7 separate regions of the Homo sapiens genome follow, and regions 1, 2, 3, 4, 5 and 6 are each reported to be linked to region 7. The links are microRNA targets in miRTarBase. Many come from high-throughput screens and were not tested one by one. Region 7 holds a microRNA gene; each other region holds the end of a gene's coding sequence.

Evidence for each region. Region 7 holds the annotated microRNA hsa-miR-512-5p (CACUCAGCCUUGAGGGCACUUUC, at 1,535-1,557, opposite strand). A microRNA usually pairs through its seed, bases 2 to 8, with sites in the 3' UTR of a target mRNA and lowers its output. Matches are read on the target gene's strand: a 7mer-m8 pairs with bases 2 to 8, a 7mer-A1 pairs with bases 2 to 7 and ends in A, and an 8mer does both.
Region 1: the mRNA of CDC14B is a reported target of hsa-miR-512-5p. The part of its 3' UTR that is shown has no 7-base or 8-base seed match.
Region 2: the mRNA of MYLIP is a reported target of hsa-miR-512-5p. Seed matches in the 3' UTR shown: 7mer-m8 at 1,026-1,032 and 7mer-A1 at 1,452-1,458.
Region 3: the mRNA of SETD9 is a reported target of hsa-miR-512-5p. The part of its 3' UTR that is shown has no 7-base or 8-base seed match.
Region 4: miRTarBase lists GON7 as a target of hsa-miR-512-5p. The part of its 3' UTR that is shown has no 7-base or 8-base seed match.
Region 5: the mRNA of PCLAF is a reported target of hsa-miR-512-5p. Seed matches in the 3' UTR shown: 7mer-m8 at 1,770-1,776.
Region 6: miRTarBase lists SNAP23 as a target of hsa-miR-512-5p. Seed matches in the 3' UTR shown: 7mer-A1 at 1,375-1,381 and 7mer-m8 at 1,543-1,549.

What each region holds. Positions count from the first base shown.
Region 1 is chr9:96,500,853-96,504,400 of GRCh38, forward strand. CDC14B (cell division cycle 14B) reads right to left here. Exons shown (of 14, transcript NM_033331.4): 14 at 1-2,937. The coding sequence ends at 2,901. Among named protein-coding and RNA genes, the nearest start is that of HABP4, 52 kb to the left of the region's middle.
Region 2 is chr6:16,146,552-16,149,551 of GRCh38, forward strand. It overlaps MYLIP (myosin regulatory light chain interacting protein), which reads left to right. Exons shown (of 7, transcript NM_013262.4): 7 at 111-1,697. The coding sequence ends at 200. It also overlaps the pseudogene LOC124901514. Among named protein-coding and RNA genes, the nearest start is that of MIR4639, 6.5 kb to the left of the region's middle.
Region 3 is chr5:56,916,192-56,919,739 of GRCh38, reverse strand. It overlaps SETD9 (SET domain containing 9), which reads right to left. Exons shown (of 6, transcript NM_153706.4): 6 at 2,392-2,925. The coding sequence ends at 2,838. MIER3 (MIER family member 3) reads left to right here. Exons shown (of 13, transcript NM_001297599.2): 13 at 1-137. Among named protein-coding and RNA genes, the nearest start is that of SETD9, 8.4 kb to the right of the region's middle.
Region 4 is chr14:93,200,560-93,204,049 of GRCh38, reverse strand. GON7 (GON7 subunit of KEOPS complex) reads left to right here. Exons shown (of 2, transcript NM_032490.5): 2 at 268-1,156. The coding sequence ends at 362. Among named protein-coding and RNA genes, the nearest start is that of GON7, 4.8 kb to the left of the region's middle.
Region 5 is chr15:64,363,207-64,366,206 of GRCh38, forward strand. PCLAF (PCNA clamp associated factor) reads right to left here. Exons shown (of 4, transcript NM_014736.6): 4 at 1,098-2,869. The coding sequence ends at 2,824. Among named protein-coding and RNA genes, the nearest start is that of CSNK1G1, 8.5 kb to the left of the region's middle.
Region 6 is chr15:42,530,840-42,534,387 of GRCh38, forward strand. It overlaps SNAP23 (synaptosome associated protein 23), which reads left to right. Exons shown (of 8, transcript NM_003825.4): 8 at 574-2,219. The coding sequence ends at 639. It also overlaps a transcript of LRRC57 not described here. Among named protein-coding and RNA genes, the nearest start is that of LRRC57, 16 kb to the right of the region's middle.
Region 7 is chr19:53,664,701-53,668,248 of GRCh38, reverse strand. It overlaps MIR512-1 (microRNA 512-1), which reads right to left and starts at 1,570; the gene lies at 1,487-1,570. All of the region lies in intron 2 of LOC107985342 (a long non-coding RNA gene), which reads right to left. RefSeq lists enhancers at 870-1,758, 1,759-2,646, 2,647-3,536.

The sequences.
Region 1 (3,548 bases), not on the chromosome of region 7:
AGGCCACACACAAGCCCAGGCCATCCCGCCCAGCCCAGCGAGCACACTGGCCTCATAACAATGCTTGGGAACTCCTCTAAAACTTGCCTAGGCCCAAGAAAACAGAGAGGTAGCAATCACCCCTGTGAGAGGGCTAGAGAGGAGGGGAGGAAGTAGGTAGGGGACAGGCTAGGGGCATCAAGCTCAGAACAGGGGAATTCTGGAGGCCGCAGAGCTGCGTGCTGCCGGGAAGCACTGGCCACGCCAGGCCATTCTGCTCTCACGAGGCGCTGCTCCTCACCAAATTCTACAAAAAGCTAAGTCCGTCTATACTTCTAGGAACCCAGTTTTGCAGACGCTCTTCCTCCGGACTGTCCCTGACTTTTGATAATTTTGAGTCCCCAGAAAGCTTCAAGAGCACCTAAAAATATTCACTTCCAATTTTAATTCCATCGCAAACCGTCCCAGTGTACTTTCAGGGCTATTTAAGGCTCTTAGGTTAAGGGGATCTCTCCATCTGACACACAGTTTCATGTTCCATAGCAACAAGGTCTTCTATAACAACGACTCTAAGTCAGAATTCCAGAAGATTCTGGTTGTTTGTGGTTTCAGTTGGGGGTGAGGGGAAGAGTCCACTCTCATTCATAGCAGGAAGAACTTTCCATCCCTCAGACCCAGAGACTTCCTGGATGCTAGAGACAGTCCTCATAAGTGTAACACTGCCCTTGCTATGCACACCATCCCAAGTCATTTGGTTATTACAAGGAATGCCTCTTCACCAAATCACAAGTTTTCTATGACTAATTTCAGTGAACCAGTTAAATAGAAAGATTTTTAGAAAGAGCCACAGTGATAGCAATTCTAGGTGGAAACTTGAGCAGGCAACATGAAGAGGCAGTTTATAAAATGAAAAAGGGCTGTGGTTCCAGTGACACCCTTTCTTTTCTTGGACGAAACACCAGGAGGCTCATTCACCGTGAGGGAGACAGTACTCACAAGAGCTGTGGCGCCTACGTTTACTTGTTCTGATGGGATGAAAAGCCAAACTAAGAAGGGATCAGATAGAAGCACGATTTTCACAACTACCTGGATTATTATTAATGGAGGGGATGGCCTTAAAAGGGGTAAGGGGAAGAAGAGGTGCCCTGAGAATTCAATGCTTTATGCATGGCACAGTTTGAATATTTATATTGTCTCAGCTCAAAATAGCAAAAGGAATGTTCCTCCTCCCACCCAAATCTTATTGAAGAGTAGTCTGCCCACAGCCAAGTGGGTCTTTGTGCCTATTCATTTCCAGGGACAGAAAACCACTGTTTTTCTGTGATCCAGTCCCCAGTGTTTAAAAGCTGGCCTGACCCCACCCGACAGTGCCTGGCGGGGAAAGAGTTGCTTGTTTGGCTGAGAACACGGCATCTTCCGTCTCTCATGATGCCGGTCAATTTTATACTTTCTTCCAAGAAAGTACACCAAAATGGAGGCACTGCCTTTCAATTACTTTTTGCATTAAAGACTTTTAACTTGTTTATTCCAACCGCTTTTATTTCTTCCAGTTTTGTGAAAAAGGCAGCTTCTTAAAATGGAGTTGCCTACTAATCTGGCGCACGCCTTGTGGCTTAGGAGGGCATTTGTTTCCCACTGCCTGTCGACATCTCAGCCCTCCATGCTCCCGGCACAGGCAAAAATGGCTTAACAATCATTAAACCACCCACTTCTTATGGAAGGAACTGAGGTGAGTACTATATATTCTTTTATTTCGGGCCCCATTTTTTTTTTTTTTTTTAGCAGCACATCAATTCTGTTTCTGTAACTGCTTCATGGCACAGACTCTGCTGTGTTCCAGTAGGGCTGCGGGAGAAGGCACTCTGCAGAGTTACTAGTTGTGTTCCCTAACCAAAGGCAACAGTGAGATCCAGAAGCAGATCATTGTCACTGAGATCGCAGGCCACGTCAATGGCCTTAGGTGGATCTCATAAGGGAAAAAAAAAATCCAATGTTACAGGGAAGGACTCTAAAAAAGTGGTAACTTTTTTTTTTTGTAAGCCGACATTATTTGGGATTGCTGTTTCCAAGGGGAAAAACCAATAGTGTGTTTCTTCCATTCATGGAAGGAAATATGATTTTAATTTGTATGACTGGCAACCAAACAATGGGCAGCCTCCCAGTTCTTCAGTCCCTGAAGGACAGAAAAAGGAACGACTTGCAACATCTTCCAACTCTGAAGTCAGTTTCTCCTCCTGAGTCTTCTAAAGCTACCATTAATATTCTCTTGCAAGTTTTAGGTTACTAAGGTACCACCTGGTCTTACAACATGCAACAGTGTTTAAATGTGATTTTCACAGATTCTTGTTAATAAAGCACTCTTTGGTGGAAGACAAGCAGCTTGGGTACTTAACAGAGTTAACATTACAACAGTATTACAAATAGTCAAGTGAAGATGATTAAGCCAAATAGTATCAAATTACAGAAAGTACCATTTCAGTAATGCCTTTTGTATCTTTATAAATTTTGACACAGGGTCACAAGGTGAACAGAAAATAAATACATAAAAAACCTCCATCAGATCCTCAATTCTTCTGAAGGCCAGCAACTACAATGATTGCCATCACAGGGACACACATGCACCACAGACCAGCCAGCTCCCTGGGTACCAGAGGGCTTGGGTATTTACACCTGAGACTAAATTTACAACAGCATGTTTGTCATTCAGCTTGAGAGCTGGACCCTTCTCTGAGTCATTTGCTTGCACCCAAACTCAAAGTTCATTATTCAAACTCCAGTGGACATTTTCTCCATTGATCAACTTCTTAGGTGGAAAAAGCAACTAAGGCTTTTGCAATTTTGTTTTGTTTTCAAATTGTGCTAATTTCTGTTGCAGTTTTCAGTCCTAGAGTCTTCCTTCAGCTCTGGTCACAGGTTTTTACTTAACGCAAGACTGTTTTAGTCCTTGAAATGGAGAGACTACAGGGGGAAAAAAAAGGATTTTTACCAGAAAGTTTACACAGCGTCCACAGGCAGTTATCAAAGACAAGGAGGGCAACATAATAAAAATACTGACATGCTAAAAAGTATACGCTTGCTGTAAGTTTCTAATGACAAATACTTTGGAGAAGACAACACAATATCAACCACAAAGGAAAGACAAACAGGAGAAAGGCAGGGCAGAAAAAGGCTCAGTTCTGCAAAAAATAGAAATTTAAAAAAACCAATACGAGTAAATAAAAATCATAAAAGACGGACGGGCAGGGGCAGCAGGGCCAGGAAAGTACCATGACGCCGCCAGGGGCACGTGCTGCAAAGCACTCCTTGTCCTTCCTTTCCTCTGAGGGACCAGGCTGTGGGAGGAGCGGGCAGAATGAAAAGATAGAGAACTGTTACTGGGTTATTTCAAAAGCCAGAATTTGGTCACAGAAAAAGCTCTGGCACCTAAGCGGCTTCCAGCTCCACCGAGCACAGGAGGCACCCCACGGGCTACCTGCCTCCGCACTCCACGATTCTCATCCTGCCTCTCTTCTCTCCTTCCCCAGTTCACGACGCTACACTTTCAGGTCAGTAACAACTTTCAGAAAGCA
Region 2 (3,000 bases), not on the chromosome of region 7:
ACAATTGATTTAGAAAATTAAATGCACTAGAGACCAGGGGTGTGCACAGAGACACAGGCCCCCCACCGAGGCTTGCATGCTAACAGAGACTGTTGGCTTTTCTTTCCCAGTCATGTCCCGTCTGCAGGTCGCGTGTGGAGCATGTCCAGCACGTCTATCTGCCAACGCACACCAGTCTTCTCAATCTGACTGTAATCTAATCTGTTGTGCTTTTGTTGGACTTGGCATGTTTCCATGAACTGCACTATTATAAACTATTAAAATGATAGATTGTGGAGAAAGTAATTATTCCAACACCCATCTGCCATGCGATGTTAAAAAAAAAAAAAAGGAAGAAAAATAACACAGCTACTCCTCACTGCAAAAACATATCCATGCGTAGAATCAACAACTCCAGTCATGGGACCAGGAGGAGCTCTGGGACGCAGACACATTCCTTGGATGTTGATTTTTTTTATGATCTAGTAAAGGAATAGGTAAAGTCTTTGATGTCAGTGAAGTGGCAACATAGCCAAAAAGTTGGGTACCTTTTAGGAAATGATGTTGTAAGTCTCCTTAATGTATCCTGAGGTAAGTTTCCTACTGGCAGCAGATTTTGTAAGAATTACTTTTAAGAATTTCATTCTTTTTGTATGGTCATGGAGCTCCAACCATTTTTAATAGGAAAGTCTTTTGTAAATTGTTGTCGTTTTAATGTCATTTCTGTCTTTATAACTTGATCAAGAATGATTGGAAGGCAAACAGGTTTACAAATCAATTCTGTGACTTTTAAAAAGTTGACAATGTTGTCAGATTTAAACCAGTGTGGCTAGTAAAAAGCAGCTCACTCAATGTGGGTGGCTCCCTATTCCTTTACGCTCCCCCTATCCCTACCCCACAAGCCTTTCGATTATAAAATACTACCAATCTTGTTATAAGATTACTGTGGAGTAGTCAAGTACTCCCCGGGCCTTCTGAGCTGGTGGAATATTTTATTTCAGACTGAAAACAGAGAGCACTCTCCTTGGGAAGGGAAAGCGGAGCTTGCTGAGTGAGAGATGGAGCCTCATGGTGTACAACTGAGGGTAGTTAACTCATCACTTCTCCCAAGCACTCGATCCCAGCTTCACCCACTGGTGTTGCTTTGCTTGAACTGTTCAAGCCTTTTATAGCCTTACCATAAGTATTTAGATATGGTGTCCTTTTCTGTTTTTGGGGGGGGAGTTTTGTTGTGTTTTTTTAAAGTAAGTGCTTAAGTATTAACTTTGGGTTGTCCCCTCTGTATGTTTCGAAGGGGTTTTGGTTCTTTTTGCTTCTGTTTTCTTAAACATGTTTTCCACTCCCACTTGGGCATTTTGGAAGCTGGTCAGCTAGCAGGTTTTCTGGGATGTCGGGAGACCTAGATGACCTTATCGGGTGCAATACTAGCTAAGGTAAAGCTAGAAACCTACACTGTCACTTTACTGAGATTTCTGAGTATACTTTTCATATTGCCTTAATGTAGCAGTAATGTGTTTATGCATTTGTTTCTTTGCACAGACATTTTGTCAAATATTAAAACTCTACTTTTTTATGGCACATATTAGCATATAAGCCTTTATTCCAAGAGGTATTTATTTTTTCACTTGTAAAAAAATAATGTTTCCACGTAAAGAACTCTGTTATATCCTAGAGGACTCTGTCTTTTATATTCGGGATAATAAAGACTTTAAAGCAAACATGGATGTGTGTATTGTCATTTAAGCCAGTTTTATTTCATTTCAAAGAAATAAGCAAGGGGTAACATCACAGTTAGTATCTACTTTCCTCCTACCGGGAATTTAATTTTTTTTTTTTAATAATTTCGGTGCTCTACAAATTCAGAGAAACTTCTTTAGTAACAAACTATAGAAATGATCCTTGAGAGTATAGTCTTTTTTTTTTTTTTTCAAGAAAACTTGAAAATATTTGTGGTATTGGTTCTAATGGAGATCACTTCACCAGGTTATTCTCTTATTTATGTCTTTGGGTGGTTAGATTGGTATGTAGGGGAAAATGGGGTCATGAACATAAGCAGATGAAAAGAAAAAATCAGGACAAGTACTGGAAGCTATTGGAGAAGGAAGGAAGTGGCAAAGCTGGAAGTTAACAATTAACAACCCAGCTGGTGCTGCTGGTGTGTGGCCTGCTCAAGACAGGGGAGTGGCCTGGGTCATAGCAGTAAGGGCCTCGGGCTACAGAAGCTCGGGCTGTATTCCTGCAGGACTGCTGGTCTACTCCTGCTAGGTCCTAACTGCTCTATGCTTGCCAGTGTGTGCTCATCTGTGTTTCTCCAGAAATACATTTTGGAATAGAGAATATTGTACATAATATATATAAGTGATAATTATCTGTAGCAATTGGAAGAAGTAAATTTATTTTTTTTAATTAGAGGCAGGGGTATTTGTTTTTACTGTACCTATAACCTAAGTCAATCTTCCATCAATTTCTAGGAATTAACTAATTTGTTCATTCAACACATTTATTGAAACCTACTAAGTTATTGAGCCCTGGAAATTTAGCAGTCATCAAGACATAAATGATTCTGGATGCCTGTATCATGTACTTAGCCTGTAACGTGTACTTTTGTCTCTGCGCGGAAGTTAGATAATATGCAGAATCCACGAATACTAGCATCAGAGGGAGTCTTGGGCATACCAGTATCAAAATGCTAACCAAGTTGATGGAGGGATGGATGGATGACAGGCTGACAGATAAGATTACATATTATTCACCCCACTAGACCATATGGACGCCTTAAGCTCAGTGACTAACATGAAAACCACTATATTACATGGTGGCATCATAGAATTAGAAGGGAAGAACAGTGGAGGCACAGGAGGCAGGGATTCATTGTGCTTAGGAGCCAAGGATAAAGGTGCTTCATAAAAGATCTGAGCAGATCCTTGACATTCTAGTTGGAAAAAGAAAGTGCATAGCCCATGCCAGGGCTGGAGCACAGTCTGCTGGGGCTGGCCCACCCGCTGCATGTCAGTGAACTGG
Region 3 (3,548 bases), not on the chromosome of region 7:
AGATGTTCAAGAGGAAGTTGCTATTGCATTGATTTTAATATTTGTACATAAACACTGATTTTTTTGAGCATTATTTTGTATTTGTTGTACTTTAATACCTGGTGTACAGTTCCAGAAATAAAAATCTGGGAATCTTTTTTTCTTGGTTTGTGTGAATATTTGCCAAAAATACAGATATTTTATTTAATGAATCTTAAGCTACAGCAAATAGATAGATATTATACCACTGTTAAATTGGTTTTAGATGCAGTAAATAAGATATATGATAGATAGTGAAGTTGGTAGATTAAATATTTTCCTTAAATCCTCTATAATTTCCATCTATAATAAAAGTCCCCCTGTAATCCCAACACTTTGAGAGGCCGAGGCGGGCAGATCATGAGGTCAGGAGTTCAAGACCAGCCTGACCAACATAGTGAAACCCCGTCTCTACTAAAAATACAAAAATCAGCCGAGCGAGGTGGCGCATGCCTGTAACCCCAGCTACTCAGGAGGCTGAGGCAGGAAAATTGCTTGAACCCTGGGGGTGGTGGTTGCAGTGAGCTGAGATCCTGCCATTGCACTCCAGCCTGGACAACAGACTGAGACTCCATCTCAAAAAAAAAAAAAAAAAGAAGTCCCAAAGTAAGGATTATACTTTTAGTTTAATTCAGGAAACATTTATTATGTTTCAAACGCTGTTCTAGGTAACTGTCTTTTATGAAGACAGACAGATCTGAAATTTGGTCAAATATTATTATTATTTGACAGACTACATTTATGGTCAACTAGTCTTCCTTATCCATACGATTCATAGTTTGACCGTAGTCATATCTATCTTTCCTAAACATCTTTTTAAGCTAAAGCTCCTATCTTGCCATTATTTCACAAGTTTGTCCCCATATTTCATTTCCTCTGACCAGAGCTTTATGTAGTTCCATTTTTAAGATGCAGTGATCAGCTTGCCCATAATATCCAAAGTTTGTACAAGGCCAAGAAGGGGATAAAAGGAAAGCAAAAATCTTGACTCCTCTGCTTTGGTTACTTGACTAAAACCACATCCCTTCCTTGTCAGACACGAAAGGACCTTAGCACATAGGGCTCTGTGGTGGACACATGCACAGAAGTGCCTTCAGAGCAGGGACAAGCACACATATTCCGAATACAGCAAGAATGCAACAATGTGCCATGTGAGAGCTCAGAGTATTTTCAGGCTTTAGGAGACGGAAAAGCCTGTGGAAGCAGGATAATCTAGTACATCTGTTACTAGAAGTCATTTTGGCCATAATTTCCATCTATGGTACGCTTTTTGAGCTTGCTGGTGGTAAGTGCTAAAGAGAATGAGGAATATGTCAGGGTTGGGAGCAGTGAGGGATTGTAAATTTCAGTGGGGTGATGAGGCAACGCTCCTCACTGAGGTGACAGGAAGGGAGAGAACAAGCTATGTGGCTGTCTGGGGGAAGATGTTTACAGGCAGAGAGAACTAAGTGCAAAAGTCCTTGGTTGGGAATGTGCCTGGCAGGTTTGGGGAGTGGCCAGGAGGCAGGTGTGGGTTGGGATGGAGTGAGCAAGGGGAGAAAGGAGAGGAGCTCTTGAGGTCATGAGCAGGTTATGCATGTGAAGGACTTCAGCATTTACTCCATGATAGGGAGAGGGTTTTGAGCAGACGTATGTCAATACCTGACTTTCATTTAAAAGAATCACACTTGGTGATATGTTCTGTAAGGGGGACAGGAGTGGAAACAAGGAAGGCAATTGAGAGGCTACTGAAATTGCAATAAACTAGGTGAGTAAAGCTGGTGGTAAGGAAGTGAAGGTAATCAGAATCTGGTCATATAGGTTCCATGAATTTTTGAGGGATCCAGTAAAGAACACCCTCCTTCCTATCCAAGTTTGGAACTGAGAGAGCTGGAGTCAGGTCGATGGAGGTCAAAGTAACTATTGCTAATAAAACGGGAAGGTAGCTTCAGGGCTGCAGCCAGGTTGGCCTGCCAATATATTACACCTCTGGACTCACTCTGTCACTGGCTGGGCTGGCTACAGGCTATTCTCTGCACAAGGCAGAGAACTGCCAGGACACATTCTTTCTGCTGGCAGCCAGAGTCCACAGGGAAGGAACTAGAAGGGTATATAGGACATGGGTGCCTAGTTATTCTCCAAACATAATCAGGGAGTCAATCTCCCTCCAGTGGGTGGAGAGAGAGGCTAGGAACATTAACCAGTGGAAGCCCTCCACATGAAGACATGAGACACGGGGAATAAGTGTTCCTCCCACCAACACTATCTTGCACTTTTTTTCCACCTTTTCTTTGGTGTGAAAATGTTCAAAGAGTAAAGAAAATAGTAATAATGACCTCACATTTTCCCCTCAGCCAGCTAGAGCAATCTTTACATTATACATAGACACACCAATTTACTCATGGCAACACAATAGGTATTTTTTACTCAATTCTGTAAAAATAAAGTTTTTACAGAAGTTTGTACACATCAGCAGTACTACAAGAACTGCTGATGCCTGGCTACAATTTTATAAACCACCACAGAGCTTACAAAATAAACAAAAGAAAAATTGAAATTATAAGTTCAAAGAGTAGGTTTTAATTTAATAAGCTATTGTGTATTTAGGTGAAAACCAATTAAACTTGGAATTGCATTACAAATTTGAAATTGTAATGAAGCAAGTAGCTTTTATCATGAAATTGGAACATAAATATAATATCAACAAAAACATAAGAAATTCCTATTCCAATTAAGTCTCAAAATATTTGTTTTACAGGTAGAACTCAGAGAAGTGATTAACAAAAAACACTTAGAATTAATAGCTGAGTAGAAAACCTAATAATTTCTGATTCACAGAGTTAGCTGACAATTGTGTAGTAGTTTGAAAAAAGCTCTTCTCCTTGATTGATGTCCCTAAGTGCGACAAGAACAACACATCGAAGTGGGCTGAAAACAAAAAGATATACAAAAGGTAGAGCATTAACAAATATAAGCTCATATTTTTAATATAACCAAGATGGCTTTTATAGAGGTAACTTTACTCAGGTTCCTTCCATTTTAGTTTATGCATTTGATTTCCATGAGGAAATAGTTCTTATTCCTGATGCAGGTATTCTAAAGAGTATATCTATATCATTTAAAAAATCACAAATCAATGTTTATACAACTGACTACTTCTTCTGAAAACATTGTTTCTAAGTTTAGGCCCCCAAAACTAGTATCACAAAAAGGATTTTAAAATGACATTATAGTTTTTCTTGCATTCATTTGTATCTTATATCCTGAAAAATGAAAACATTACTTAAAATTAGTTGGAGTTTTAAAAAAATGCTTTTTTCTGGACATCATAAAATATTGTTTGTTTTTTTTGAGATGGAATCTCACTCTGTCACCCAGGCTGGTGTGCAGTGGTGTGACCTTGGCTCACTGCAACCTCTGCCTCCCGGGTTCAAGCGATTCTCCTGCCTCAGCCTCCTGAGTAGCTGGGATTACAGGTGCGTGCCACCACGCCTGACTAATTTTTGTATTTTTAGTAGAGATGAGGTTTCACCATGTTGGTCAGGCTGTTC
Region 4 (3,490 bases), not on the chromosome of region 7:
CACTCCAGCCTGGCGACAGAGCAAGACTATCTCAAAAAAAAAGAAAAAAAGAGTGGATTTTATGGTGAATGAACTAATATTTCCAAAGAGGAAAGTGATAGAAAATAAAGATTTTAAACACTGAAATTCTCAAAATCATTTTAATCTAAAATGTGCAGGTTTTATTAATCCCTAAAGTGAAATGGTCTCATTATCAACCACTTTAGCTATATATATTTCTTTCAGCCATAGAACGTATTGTCATACAACAAATATTTATTTTAAAAGGTGATGATGAAGATGATGCAGAAGATGAAAATAACATTGATAACAGAACTAACTTCGATGGACCATCTGCAAAACGGCCAAAAACACCGTCTTAACAATAGCCTTCATGACATTTAAAAGATGGCTGTTGTATCCTTATTGTCACACTAGGACATTTAAGGAAGACTTATGCTCTAATTTGGAAAAAGCATTTGTGTTGTTCTCCTGGGACAATTTTGTCAAAGAGAAAACTGGTTTTTCTGTTTCTAGCAAAGATAGTAAAGGCTTAGAAATAAAATCTGTTTTCTTGAGAAATAAATTTCAGACCCTGGAAGGAAAATAGAACACTTCATAATGTATAAAATCCTCTAAGTTGGCAACTGAATTTTTATCATTGTTTTCTATTTTTAAAATAATCATTGATTTGTGTGATGTCTACATCTTTTAACTTCTGGTTCTGTTATAAAGAGTACATGTCACGGTTCATAGGCAGTAACATTTCAGAGAACTGACATGAACAAGTAGTGAAAATTGGGCATTAAATATAAAAATAACAGTTCTTCATAAACAGAAGGAAAATAAGGAAATAGAAATACCGACGAGAAAGGAGAGTCCTTGAAAGAGACCCAAGGAAACCCTGAATTCATACCCACGTCAAATATGCACATATCCTGAGATGATGCCACTTTGATGAATGTGCATTAGTCTGATTTATCATGTACCTTAAGAGAGCCAGATGGGGTATGTTTTTGTGCTGTGATATGGTATTTATACAGGTACAAATATAAGGCCTTAAGTAAACAATCTGCATTGATTACAATTTGGATATTTCCTCTCCTCCTGTAGCCATACTTTGATTTTGCTTTAAAAAGATTATTGAATCCTTTTAAAAATATATATTCCTAAAATATGTATGTGTGTGTGTTTCTTTTCTGCTCGTCAGTGGGACTAAGGCATTTTTATTTGCTGTGCATCCTTCCTGATTTAGATAGCTTCAATGCAAAGAAATCAAGTAGCATGTACCTAGTAAAATACAAATAGTCATGGAATTTTAGAGTTGGAAGTCACTTTACAAATTATGTGATTTATTTCAGAGATAAATCTAAGGATAAGTATTTGCCCTCAGATTACAGAGCTAACCATTGACAAACTGGGTTACATAAATAGCCTTTAGATTTTTTTTAAGCTGATAAAAGGTGAGAGAAGATCAACTTTTTTTTTCTTTTTTTTTTTTTTTTTGAGACAGAGTTTCACTCTTGTTGCCCAGGCCGGAGTGCAGTGGCACAATCTTGGCTCACTGCAACCTCTCCCTCCCGGATTCAAGCAATTCTTCTGCCTCAGCCTCCCAAGTAGCTGAAATTACAGGCATGTGCCACCACGCCCAGCTAATTTTGTATTTTTAGTGGAGATGGGGTTTCACCATGTTGGTCAGGCTGGTCTCGAACTCCTGACCTCAGGTGATTCACCCACCTTGGCTTCCCAAAGTGCTGGGATTACAGGCATGAGCCACCACGCCAGGTCAATTTTTTTTTTTTTCCCAGGGTCAACTTTTTTTTCAGATGGAGTCTTGCTCTGTTGCCCAGGCTGGAGTGCAATGGTGCGATCTGGGCACACTGCAACCTCCACCTCCCAGGTTCAAGCAATTGTCCTGCTTCAGCCTCCTGAGTAGCTGGGATTGTAGGTGCACACCACCACGCCCGACTAATTTTTATATTTTTAGTAGAGATGGGGTTTCACCATGTTGGTAAGGCTGGTCTCGAACTCCTGACCTCGTGACCCGCCCGCCTCAGCCTCCCAAAGTGCTGGGATTACAGGCGTGAGCCACCGTGCGTAGCCTTTTTTTCTTTCTTTCTTTTTTAAATTTTTATTTTTAGACAGGGTTTCACTCTGTCACCCAGGCTGGAGTGCAGTGGCACGATCGCGGCTCACTGTCACTGCAACCTCCGAGTCCCAGGCTTAGGTGATCTTCCCACCTCACCCTCTCAAATAGCTGGGACCACAGGCATGCACCAGCACACCTGGCTAATTTTTTTGTATTTGTAGAGATGGTTTCACCACGTTGCCCAGGCTGGTCTAGAACTCCTGGACTCAAGGGATCTGCCCACCTCTGCCTCCCAAAGTGCTGGGATTACAGGCGTGAACCACCATGCCCGGACTAATCAACTTTTATGAATCACTTTTATTGTGAAATAATTTAAGTGAAACTCAATTTACACACTTTTTCATATCCTTGAAATATTGTTTTAGTTGGAACAGCAAGCAGCCTTCCACTAAGTACTCTTGGGCAATCAAAACAGTGCCAACTAGAAAAAGTTATGGATGGTCAGAAATTATCTTTGTTTAGTTTATGTTGATGTTTCTAACATTTAACTTATTTATTATAGTACTGTTATCTCTATACAATCATTAAAGAAAAAACTGGTTGGGCACGGTGGCTGATGGCTGTATTCCCAGCACTTTGGGAGGCCGAGGTGGGCGGATCACCTGAGGTCGAGGGTTCGAGACCAGCCCAACCAACATGGAGCAACCCAGTCTCTACTAAAAATACAAAATTTGCCTGGTGTGGTGGCACATGCCTGTATTCCCAGCTACTTGGGAGGCTGAGGCAGGAGAATAGCTTGAAACTGGGAGGCAGAAGTTGCAGTGAGCCAGTGGTGCCATTGCACACCAGACTGGGCAACAAGAGCGAAACTCCATCTCAAAAAAGAAAAGAAAAAAACTTACCTGTATATACTGAAAAGAGAGCACATTGTTAAACTGATATTTGAACCTTTTCTCTGAACATTTTATGTTTCCTCCTTTGGAAAATGTGGTTATAAAGAAGAAATTTCAAGATAATATTTGTGTTTGTGTCCCAGTGTTTTTAGGTTCTGATTTATAAGATTGGTCTTTTAATTAATTTTAATACTGATTTCAATTCTAATACTGTCTTCTTCATAAGTAAGCCATGTGTTTGACAAAGATGGACCAGTATAGAAGAAATGCTTTGCCAAGTTGCCTAATCTGCTGCTGCTCTTGGGTCTCACTGTCACTCAGGCTGGAGTACAGTGGCGCAATCAGCTCACTGCAGCCTGGAATTCCTGGGCTCAGGTGATCCTCGCACCACAGCTTCCCAAGCAGCCAAGCACTAGGTGTGTGCCATCACGCCAGGCTAATTTATTTTTTATCTTATTTCTTCTTTTTTTTTTTTTAGACGGAATTTCGCTCTTGTTGCCCAGGCTGGAGTGCAATGGTGCAATCTTGG
Region 5 (3,000 bases), not on the chromosome of region 7:
GGCCTCCCAAAGTGCTAGGATTACAGGCGTGAGCCACCATGCCCAGTCTTTTTTTGCACTTTTAGTAGAGTCAGGGTTTCACCATGTTGGCCAGGCTGGTCTCGAACTCCTGACCTCAGGTGATTCACCTGCCTCGGCCTCCCAAAGTGCTGGGATTATAGGCGTGAGCCACTGCTCCCAGACTGAAGTTGAATGTAGGCATGTAATTGTTTCTAAAAAATTTGAATCTTGGCCGGCTGCAGTGACTCACACCTGTAATCCCAGCATTTTGGGAGGCCGACGCGGGCAGATCACGAGGTCAGGAGATCAAGATCATCCTGGCTAACAGGGTGAAACCCCATCTCTACTAAAAATACAAAAACAATTAGCAGGGCATGGTGGCAGGCACCTGTAGTCCCAGCTACTAGGGAGGCTGAGGCAGGAGAATGGTGTGAACCTGGGAGGTGGAGCTTGCAGTGAGCCAAGATTGCGCCACTGCACTCCAGCCTGGGCAACAGAGTGAGACTGTCTCAAAAAAAAAAAAAAAAAAAAAAATTCCCAGCACTTTGGGAGGCCCAGTCAGGCGGATCACCTGAGGTCAGGAGTTGGGAGTTGGAGACCAACCTGGTCAACATGGTGAAACCCTGCCTCTACTAAAAATGCAAAAATTAGCTGGGCGTGGTGGCGAGCACCTGTAGTCCCAGCTACTCCGGAGTCTGAGTTAGGAGAATCGCTTGAACCTGGGAGGCAGAAGTTGTTGTGAGCCAAGGTCAAGCCACTGCACTCTGGCCTGGGTGACAGAGCGAGACTCCATCTAAAAAAGAAAAGAAAAGAAAAATAGCAAATGAAGTGTCAGATCCATTAAAACTTGACTTCAAGATATTTTGTTTAAACTACTCCTTAAAAATAAACCTAATTATCAAATAAGTACTTGAACTCAGCTCCCAATTCAATAACATACTGTTTAATAATATCCACCTCTAAAAGACAAAGCAAAAAATATAATCTACAATCATTCGGACTCAAACAGTTTGGAAGGTGTTAAAATCAGGTCAATGCTCTGATTTGTATTTGGAAAGAATAAAATAGGACATAATTTTAGGAAGCACACAAATGGATAGTGTATTGTAAAAATAAGTATGCATTTATTACAAACGTATTTCAGAAAAATATGCCTACTAAAATATGATTACTTTTGACAACAGGCTGCTGCAAAAAGGGTGATGAGGAATATTATACCCACTTCTTCAATTATACCTCTGGTTATGTTGAAAAATGTCATAGTAGCTCTTAGGAGTTTTGCCATGCCTATGGGTTTATGGCATGATTTGCCTTTCATGTTATATTGACTTCCAACTTTAAAATTATATTTTATGATAGCGAATCAAATGCAAATCCTAGGAAAATTTCTTTTAAGAGATGGGATCTGGTTCCACTGTGTGTGCCACCATGCCAGGCTAATTTTTTATTGTTCATATATAAATATATATTTTTTTCTTTTCTTTCTTTTTTTTTTTTTAAGACATTGTCTCACTCTGTTGTTCAGGCTGGAGTGCAGTGGCACAATCTGGGCTCACTGCAACCTCCACCTCCCAGGTTCAAGCGATTCTCCTGCCTCAGCCTCCTGAGTAGCTGGGATTACAGGCATGTGCCACCATGCCTGGCTCATTTTTTCATTTTTAGTAGTGACAGTTTCACCATGCTGGCCAGGCTGGTCTTGAACTCCTATCTCAGGTGATCCACCTGCCTTGGCCTCCCAAAGTGCTGGGATTACAGGTGTGAGCCACTGCACTCAGCCTTTTTTAAAATTTTTTTTTTTTTTTTTTTTGAGACGGAGTCTCGCTCTGTCGCCCAAGCCGGACTGCCGACTGCAGTGGCGCAATCTCGGCTCACTGCAAGCTCCACTTCCCGGGTTCACGCCATTCTCCTGCCTCAGCCTCCCGAGTAGCTGGGACTACAGGCGCCCGCCACCGCGCCCGGCTAATTTTTTGTATTTTTAGTAGAGACGGGGTTTCACCTTGTTAGGCAGGATGGTCTCGATCTCCTGACCTCATGATCCACCCGCCTCGGCCTCCCAGAGTGCTGGGATTACAGGCGTGAGCCACCGCACCCGGCTAAAAATTGTTTTAGAGATAGGGTTTACGCTATGTTGCCTGGGCTGGTCTCCAACTCCTGGACTCAAGCAAACCTCCCTCCTCAGCCTCCTGAGAAGCCACTGTGCCCACCATGATTCTATCCTAGTATTTTATCTTTTTTCTTGTTGTTGTAGAGGCATTATCAACCGTTTAAACCCTCAAGACCAAATTATCTTTACATTTTTTTAAAGAGAAGATATCCATCCAAGGTTTTCCAACATTGCGTATTTGTCCTCCTTGCCAAAAAAGAGGGTAGAATAAGTAATGTTTAATTAATACTGAATTTTTTAATGTGCAAAAATCTAACTCTGCTTTTTAAAGCAAGTAGAAGGAGTGACAATATGGCACCATTCCAATAATCAAACACCAATAAAAATGGCAGCAGTACAACAATCTAAGCAAATCTCAAATACAACATACTTGTAATTAGAACACAATGCAATGACTTGATTTTAGCAAGAACTAGACACTTAATTTGGTAAAAGAAACCAAACAATGCATTATATTGAATACTAAGCTAAGTTACCATAATTAGTCTTACAAATTCTCAAATTTCACAACTACTTTTGAACATCTAAATTTAAACCTAAATTTTTTAATTAAATGCCTGTTCAACAAAGCTAATTGGAACAAACACATTTATGTAAATTTACATTCTAGAATACCAGGGTAAACAAGGAGACGTTATTCAAAGATGAATGAGAAAGTTCTATTCTTTTTCATCATTTGTGTGATCAGGTTGCAAAGGACATGCTCTGTGAAAAGAAGAGAGAACATCAATAGCCATCCAAGTATCAACTGTTTGAAAAAAATAGTTACAAACCTATATAAATCAGGAACATTAATTAACAGTGCAGTAGATCTGGTCTAATGACTAGAAATGAAA
Region 6 (3,548 bases), not on the chromosome of region 7:
TTTTGATGGATTTAATTGAAACAGTGGTTCACAAGATGCTTTAAATGCTGCAGTCTGGGTTTAGGCTATATTTACCTGTCATTTTAATTCAGATGTTGGTGAGGATGGTAATAGATTCGTTTCAAAGATCTTTGGAAAGGTTATTTCAGTCTCTCCAGGTTAGACTTAGGGTGTCTGAATCCAGATGAGATTCTATGATTCAGTTCAGAGGACTCACACAAGGTCCAGATCTTTAACAGAGAAGAGCACTCTTTCATATTTCATTGCATCAAAAAATGCCATTGATTACAGGATGCATCCCAGTTTCAGGCATGTTAAACTATGAAAAAATGCGTTATAGAATTTATGAAATATTGGCAAGGTCTTATATGTTACACCTTTGTCATGTTTATATACCAGGGGTTTTCCAAATGAATTTCATATTCTGTTACTTCTTGCCCAACATGAGTTTTGTAATGTAACTTCACGTGGTTTCTTGGATTTTCTTGGTGTGTCAGTTACTCCAAGTGTAAAAAGTTTAATTTTTATTAGAGTTACTTACCTTGTAAAGCTGATATCTTTCTTGTTTTTCAGGCTGACACCAACAGAGATCGTATTGATATTGCCAATGCCAGAGCAAAGAAACTCATTGACAGCTAAAGCTACTGCTGTTCTTCTTTATCATTTATTCACTTCCGTAGCTCCTCCTTGAAAGTTATTACCTTTTCAGAGTTTAAGTTTTCGGTTCCACGCTCTTCTAATTGGGAGATAATATGGAAGAAGGGCCAGAGCAGTTACAGCCCTCCTTCTTTTTTGTTTTCTGTTGAGGGCCGACTGCTGCTCTGCCTTCCTTCTAGTATTTTCTTTCTCAATTCATACGCTTAGATTGGTTTTCATATGTCATGTTTAGTGTTTTCATCCTCCTCATATACTTCAGCAGGTTCTTTTGCTTTCAAGATTTGGAAGCATTGCCAAAGACAGCCATGAAGAAGGAAGCTGTAGAGGTGTTTTTTGTTGTTGTTTATTTTTGCTTTTGTGGTTGAGGGAAGGACAAGAGATAAGAGGTTGTTACCTCAGTAAAAACCTTCAGGCCACAAAGCAAAAAGTTGCATAGCCACAACGAAGATCTAGTTGGATATAGTTTTTGATTTAAGTTGCAGTTATAGCCAATTTAGGCTAATGCTTGGTTTTGGAGCTTTTATACACAACGTTTTTGTTAGGCATCACAGTTTTGCAACCTCTGCTCCAAAGAGAAAAATAGAATGAGTTTTCTTTCTTTTTTTTTTTTTTGGAGTCAGAGTCTCGCTCTCTTGTCCAGGCTGGAGTGCAATAGCGCGATCTGGGCTCACTGCAACCTCCGCCTCCCTGGTTCAAGCAATTCTCCTGCCTTGCCTCCTGAGTAGCTGGGATTACAGGCGTGTGTCACCACGCTCGGCTAATTTTTGTATTTTTAGTAGAGACAGGGTTTCACCATGTCAAGCTGGTCTTGGACTCCTGACGTCGTGATCCACCCGCCTTGGCCTCCCAAAGTACTGGGATTACAGGCGTGAGCCACTGTGCCTGGCTGAGTTTTCTTAAAGTGAGCTTAATTTCTGAACTCTTAGTGATTCATATATGTACATAAATCTGTGATCCCATTTCTTATTGCACCATTCAGGAACACTTTATATAAATGAGTGGCTTTTTATTTCATATTATTAGTAGTATCATGGTTCCATTACAGGCCTATTAACATCATACATTGTCATTAGTCTTTGAAGAAAAAATATGTAAATATATATGTGTAACATGAGAATTTCTCTCTAAAGCAGGGCTTAAAATTTTTTGGAAAAGTTTGACAAAGCATACCACATGAATTCAGATTTACCTCAATGCTAAGAATTATGTTTAGTTAGGAAAAAGGAAAGTCATTTTGACCTCAGGTAGAAAAATAGATTGCTTTGAGTTTTATGTAGCTTTAGACTTTAAAAAGTTAGAATTTATTCTGTAACTAAAAATTATTTGAAAAAATTATGCCTCTGGTTTAATTATTGGTGATTACACACTCTTTCTCTTACCCTTGTGTATTGAACTATGTCCATAATCAAGTTGATGTGGATCCTGAAAAGTGTTATGAACATCTGATTGGTATTTGTCACATTTATTTTAAAATTAGCATCTGAACACTTCAAAGCTGTCAGTGTGTATTGGTTTCACCAATAACCACTGCTTGATCCTTACAATTAAATTTTTTAACTAACTAATGGTATTGTTCTTTCAAATAGGTAACATGTTTCTATGACTGTTATTTGGGGGAAAATAGTTTCATCAGCTCTCATTTAACAAATTAATAAAGCAAAGATCCATACATCAAGAAACACTACAGCAGGAAGCTGCCTTTAGCATCTTTCCAGTATTTATTGAAAATATTGATGGGACTTAAACTTACCTTGCTAAAAATTTATTGTGAGGTTCATTTTAATCATTACTAGTCTTACTCACTTGAGCTTAAATACACTAGTGACTGGAAGGGTAATGGTTCTGTGTGAGAACTACAACTCACTGGAGAAGATACAGTTAATGTGGGAGCTTTCAAAGGCTAAAGAGGAAAATATTTAAATAAAGTGAGATGCAACTACACCCTCTGTAATAGAAATGCTCCATGTCAAAATGAGTGGTTTGGCAGGGATGGTAAATATGTAAAGTAAGGTGTAAAACGGAGGATTGTGCTTTACCTAAATGCCTTTCCTAAAACCATTTACCATAAAAAAAAATTTTAGCACTGTTCTGGATAAAGGAAATAGTTCTGAGAATACCAGCATGCTACACTCACAGTATGATTGGTTAGAAGCATGGGCTGAGGCATTATCTGAATTTTCACTCTAGCTGAAGTGACTGTAAGATCATTTCTGTGCCTTAATTTGTCTGTAAATGCAGATTAATACAAGCATACCTCAGATACTGAGGGTTCAGTTCTAGACCACTACCATAAAGCTAGTATTGCAATGAAGTGAGGCACATGAATTTTGGTTTCCCAGTGCATATAAAAGTTCTGTTTACACTATTCTGTAGTCTATTAAATGTGCAATAGCATTATGTCTTTAAAAAGCAATGTATATACCTTAATTTAAAATACTTTACCATGGGCCAGGCGCAGTGGCTCACGCCTGTAATCCTAGCACTTTGGGAGGCCAAGGCAGATGGATCACTTGAGGTCAGGAGTTTGAGACCAGCCTGGCCAACATGGTGAAACCACATCTGTACTAAACATACAGTTAGCTGGGTGTGGTGGCATGTGCCTGTAATTCCTCTACTGAAGTCTCTTTTTTGTTTGTTTTGTTTTGTTTTTTTGAGAAGGAGTCTTGCTCTGTCATCCAGGCTGGAGTGCAGTGGCGTGATCTGGGCTCACTGCAACCTCCACCTCTCGGGTTCAAGCGATTCTCCTGCCTCAGCCTCCTGAGTAGCTGGGATTACAGGCAGGCACCACCGTGCCCAGCTAATTTTTTTATCTTTAGTAGAGACAGGGTTTCACCACGTTGGTCAGGCTGGTCTCGAACTCCTGACCTTGTGATCTACCCGCCTCTGCCTCC
Region 7 (3,548 bases):
ACTCCAGGCTGGGCAATAGAGTGAGATCCTGTCTCAAAAAATGAAAAACATTTTTGCTCTACAAGATTACATTTAATTGGCAACTACCTAGCTTTGAACCAGCAAGGGGAAAAGTAACAGAACGGCATGTCTGTCTCACTAACTTCTTGTTTTTTTGAGACAGGTTCTTGCTCTGTCCCCCAGACTGCAGAGCGGCAACACAGCCGTCGGCTCACTGCAGCCTCAACGTCCCTGGCCATACACAACTGCAGCATTTTGGCTAAACCAGCATGGCTTACAGAGAACAAGTAGTTCTTTCTCTCTCTTTTTTAAGACAAGCGTCTTGCTCTGTTGCCCAGACTGGAGTTCGGTGGCGCGATCTCGGCTCACTGCAACCTCCGTCTGCCGGGTTCAAGCAGTTCTCCTGCCTCAGCCTACCGAGTAGCTGGGACTGCAAGCCTGTGCCATCATGCCCAGCTAATTTTTTTGTATTTTTAGTAGAGATGGGGTTTCACCATGCTGGCCAGGCTGGTCTCGAACTCCTGGCCTTGTGATCCGCCCTCCTCGGCCTCCCAAAGTGCTAGGATAATAGGCGTGCGCCACTGCGTCCTGCCACAATAGTTCTTTCAATGGTAAGACTAGTTGAAAACCTGAGTTAGATGTGTATCTCTAATCTTAGTGATATTTAAATGTAAATAAAAATGTTATGTCTGGAACACACTTGGGCTGCTTGGGATATATTCAGATAAATACTATTATACATAATTTATAAATAAATACTATTTATTTACTAATAGGGTATCAGAAAGGTACAATCCCTATGTCTCCAGGTTGACATAGAAATTTTCTACTGGTCCGAAAGTTGCATCTGTACGACTGGCCAGTTGCTTCTGGTTCAACAAGGACCTAACCTGCCAATCACACAGGACAGCTGGGGGCTGACATTCCAAATTGTAATCTTTACTAGGCACAGAGGCTTAGCAGGCCTCTGGTTTAATAACACACGAAAGTAACTGCTTGAAGTAGCAAGGCACTCACTCACAAGGCACCTATAGAGTTGGTACTTATGGTCTGGAAATAGCCACATTGTAAGCTGACCACCAGTTATAATTACCAAATATTGGCAGGGCACAGGGGATCATGCGTGTAATCCCAGCACTTTGGGAGGACGAAGCAGGAGGATTGAGCCCAGGCCTCAGCTTGCTTCTTTCGCTGTGTTGTGACTTGCCTCGAAATTCTTTCCAGCAAGAGATCCAAGAACCCGCTTTTGGGGTCTGGATTGGTTGCCTCTTCTCTGGCAATGGTGTGACCCAGGCTATCCCTGAATCCAAGCATTATAGCTGCTACGGAACCCAGCCTCACAACCCAGAGACCGTGGTCATTTCCTTAAAGCTGGGCTGAAGTCCAGTTTATGGCGCAGAACAAGCACCACGGTTTAGCTTTTACCTGCAGTGGCTCCTGGAGCCCCCCGCCCCCCCTCCCCCCCATGGTGTTTCTTCGGTGCTCGCCTCAGTCATTGGACCTCAGCTATGACAGCACTTTCATTCTGGCACCAGAAAGTGCCCTCAAGGCTGAGTGCCACAGACTGAGAAGTACCCTCCCTGTATTGTCCAGTACCTGGAAACTGCAGGCACATCCTCTATGCAGAAGATAAGAGATTTAAAACTGACTTCTGAATGTTGCTCAATAGCGAAAGGTAGATTGAGCACTCTCTCCAGTTCTCAGGAACAATGCAGAGCCTTGTAATGCAAATCCTAGGCCTGCCCTGGGGCTCATGCCTGTAATCCCAGCACTTTGGGGGTCCCCAGCCTGAATAACACCTTTTACATTACTTTGTTTTCTTTTTCTTTTTCTTTCTTTTTTTTTCTTAGTCTTGCTCTGTTGCCCAGGCTGGAGTGCCATGGAGCGATCATCAGCTCACTGCAGCCTCCGCCTCCTGGGTTCAAGCAATTCTCCTGCCTCAGCCTCCTGAGAAGCTGGGATTACAGGCGCCTGCCACCACACCTGGCTAATTTTTGTATTTTTAGTAGAGACAGGGTTTCACCATATTGGCCAGGCTGGTCTCGAACTCCTGACCTCGTGATCCGCCCACCTCAGCCTCCCAAAGTGCTGGGATTACAGACGTGAGCCACCGCACACGTCCAGCACCTTTTAAATTACGTGGACAGGCCCGGTGTGGTGGCTCACCTGTAATCCTAGCAGTTTGGGAAGCCAAGGCAGAAGGATTGCTTGAGCACAGGACTTCAAAACCAGCCTGGGAAACATACTGAGGCCCCCTTCTCTACAAAAGATTTAAAACTCAGCTGGGTGTGTTTGTGCACACCTATAGTCCCAGCTACTCTGGAGACGAAGGTGGATCACTTGAGTCTGGAAGGCAGAGGTTGCAGAGAGCCAAGATCTGGCCACTGCACTCCACCCTGGGCAACAGAGTGAGACCCTGTCTCTTTAAAAAATAAAGAAAAGGAAAAAGCTGCCTTTGTGGACACCTAAATAAAAAATAAAATGAACCTAAAACCTACTGGGTGCAGTGGCTCAGAGGCCGGGGTGAGAGGATGTTTGTGCCCAGGTGTTGATGACCAGCCTAGACAATGGTGGGAGACCCCAACCCTACAAAAAAAAAAAAAAATTAGCTAAGCATGGTCCTGTATGCCTGCCATCCCAACTACACGGGACGCTGGGGTGAGGGAGGTTGAGGCTACTGTGAGTCACGATCTCACCACTGCACTCCAGCCTGGGAGACAAGCCCATCTGGGCAACACAGTGAGACTCAATCACTAATTGAACAAAATCCAAAAATTTTAAAAAATCAATAATGCGGTCCAGGAATGGTGGCTCACACCTGTAAACCCAGCACTTTGGGAGGCTGAAGAGGGCGGATGACTCGAGGCTTGGAGTCTGAGACCTGGCCAACATGGTGAAACCCCACCTCTACTAAAAATACAAAAACAATCAACTGGGCATGGTGGTGCATGCCTGTAATCCCAGCTACTCGGGAGGCTGAGGCAGGAGAATTGCTTGAATCCGGGAGGCAGAGGTTGCAGTGAGCCAAGATCACACCACTGCACTGCAGCCTGGGCAACAAGAGTGAAACTCCGTCTCAAAAAAAAAAAAAGAGTATTAGGGGCAGAGAATCAAGGTGTCGGAGTCATGACTACAAATAGAGAGGACTCAGTGTTGGAGATTTTAGGGGGAGTCTTACAACCTAAATGTGAGGCTCATATGACCCCGGGGGAAGTGCAGAAACACCATGGGAAGCCAATACTTACTGAACTCTGTGAGGACTTCCCATCCTGAGGATGAAAGGCAGGGCAGGGGCCCTGGAGCTCTTTTATACCCTAGGGACCACCCCACAGATGGAGAATGGATTAAAGTCTGGCCACACCCACTCTTTGCCCTCCAGCCTCCTCCCTGAATTTGATTTTCCTAGCTTCTGTAAATGCATTTCTTTTTCTTTTTCTTTTTCTTTTTTTTTTTTTTGAGAGGTAGTCTCACTCTGTCACCCAGGCTGGAATAGCATGATCTTGGCTCACTGTGACCTCCGCCCCCCAGGTTCAAATGATTCTCCTGCC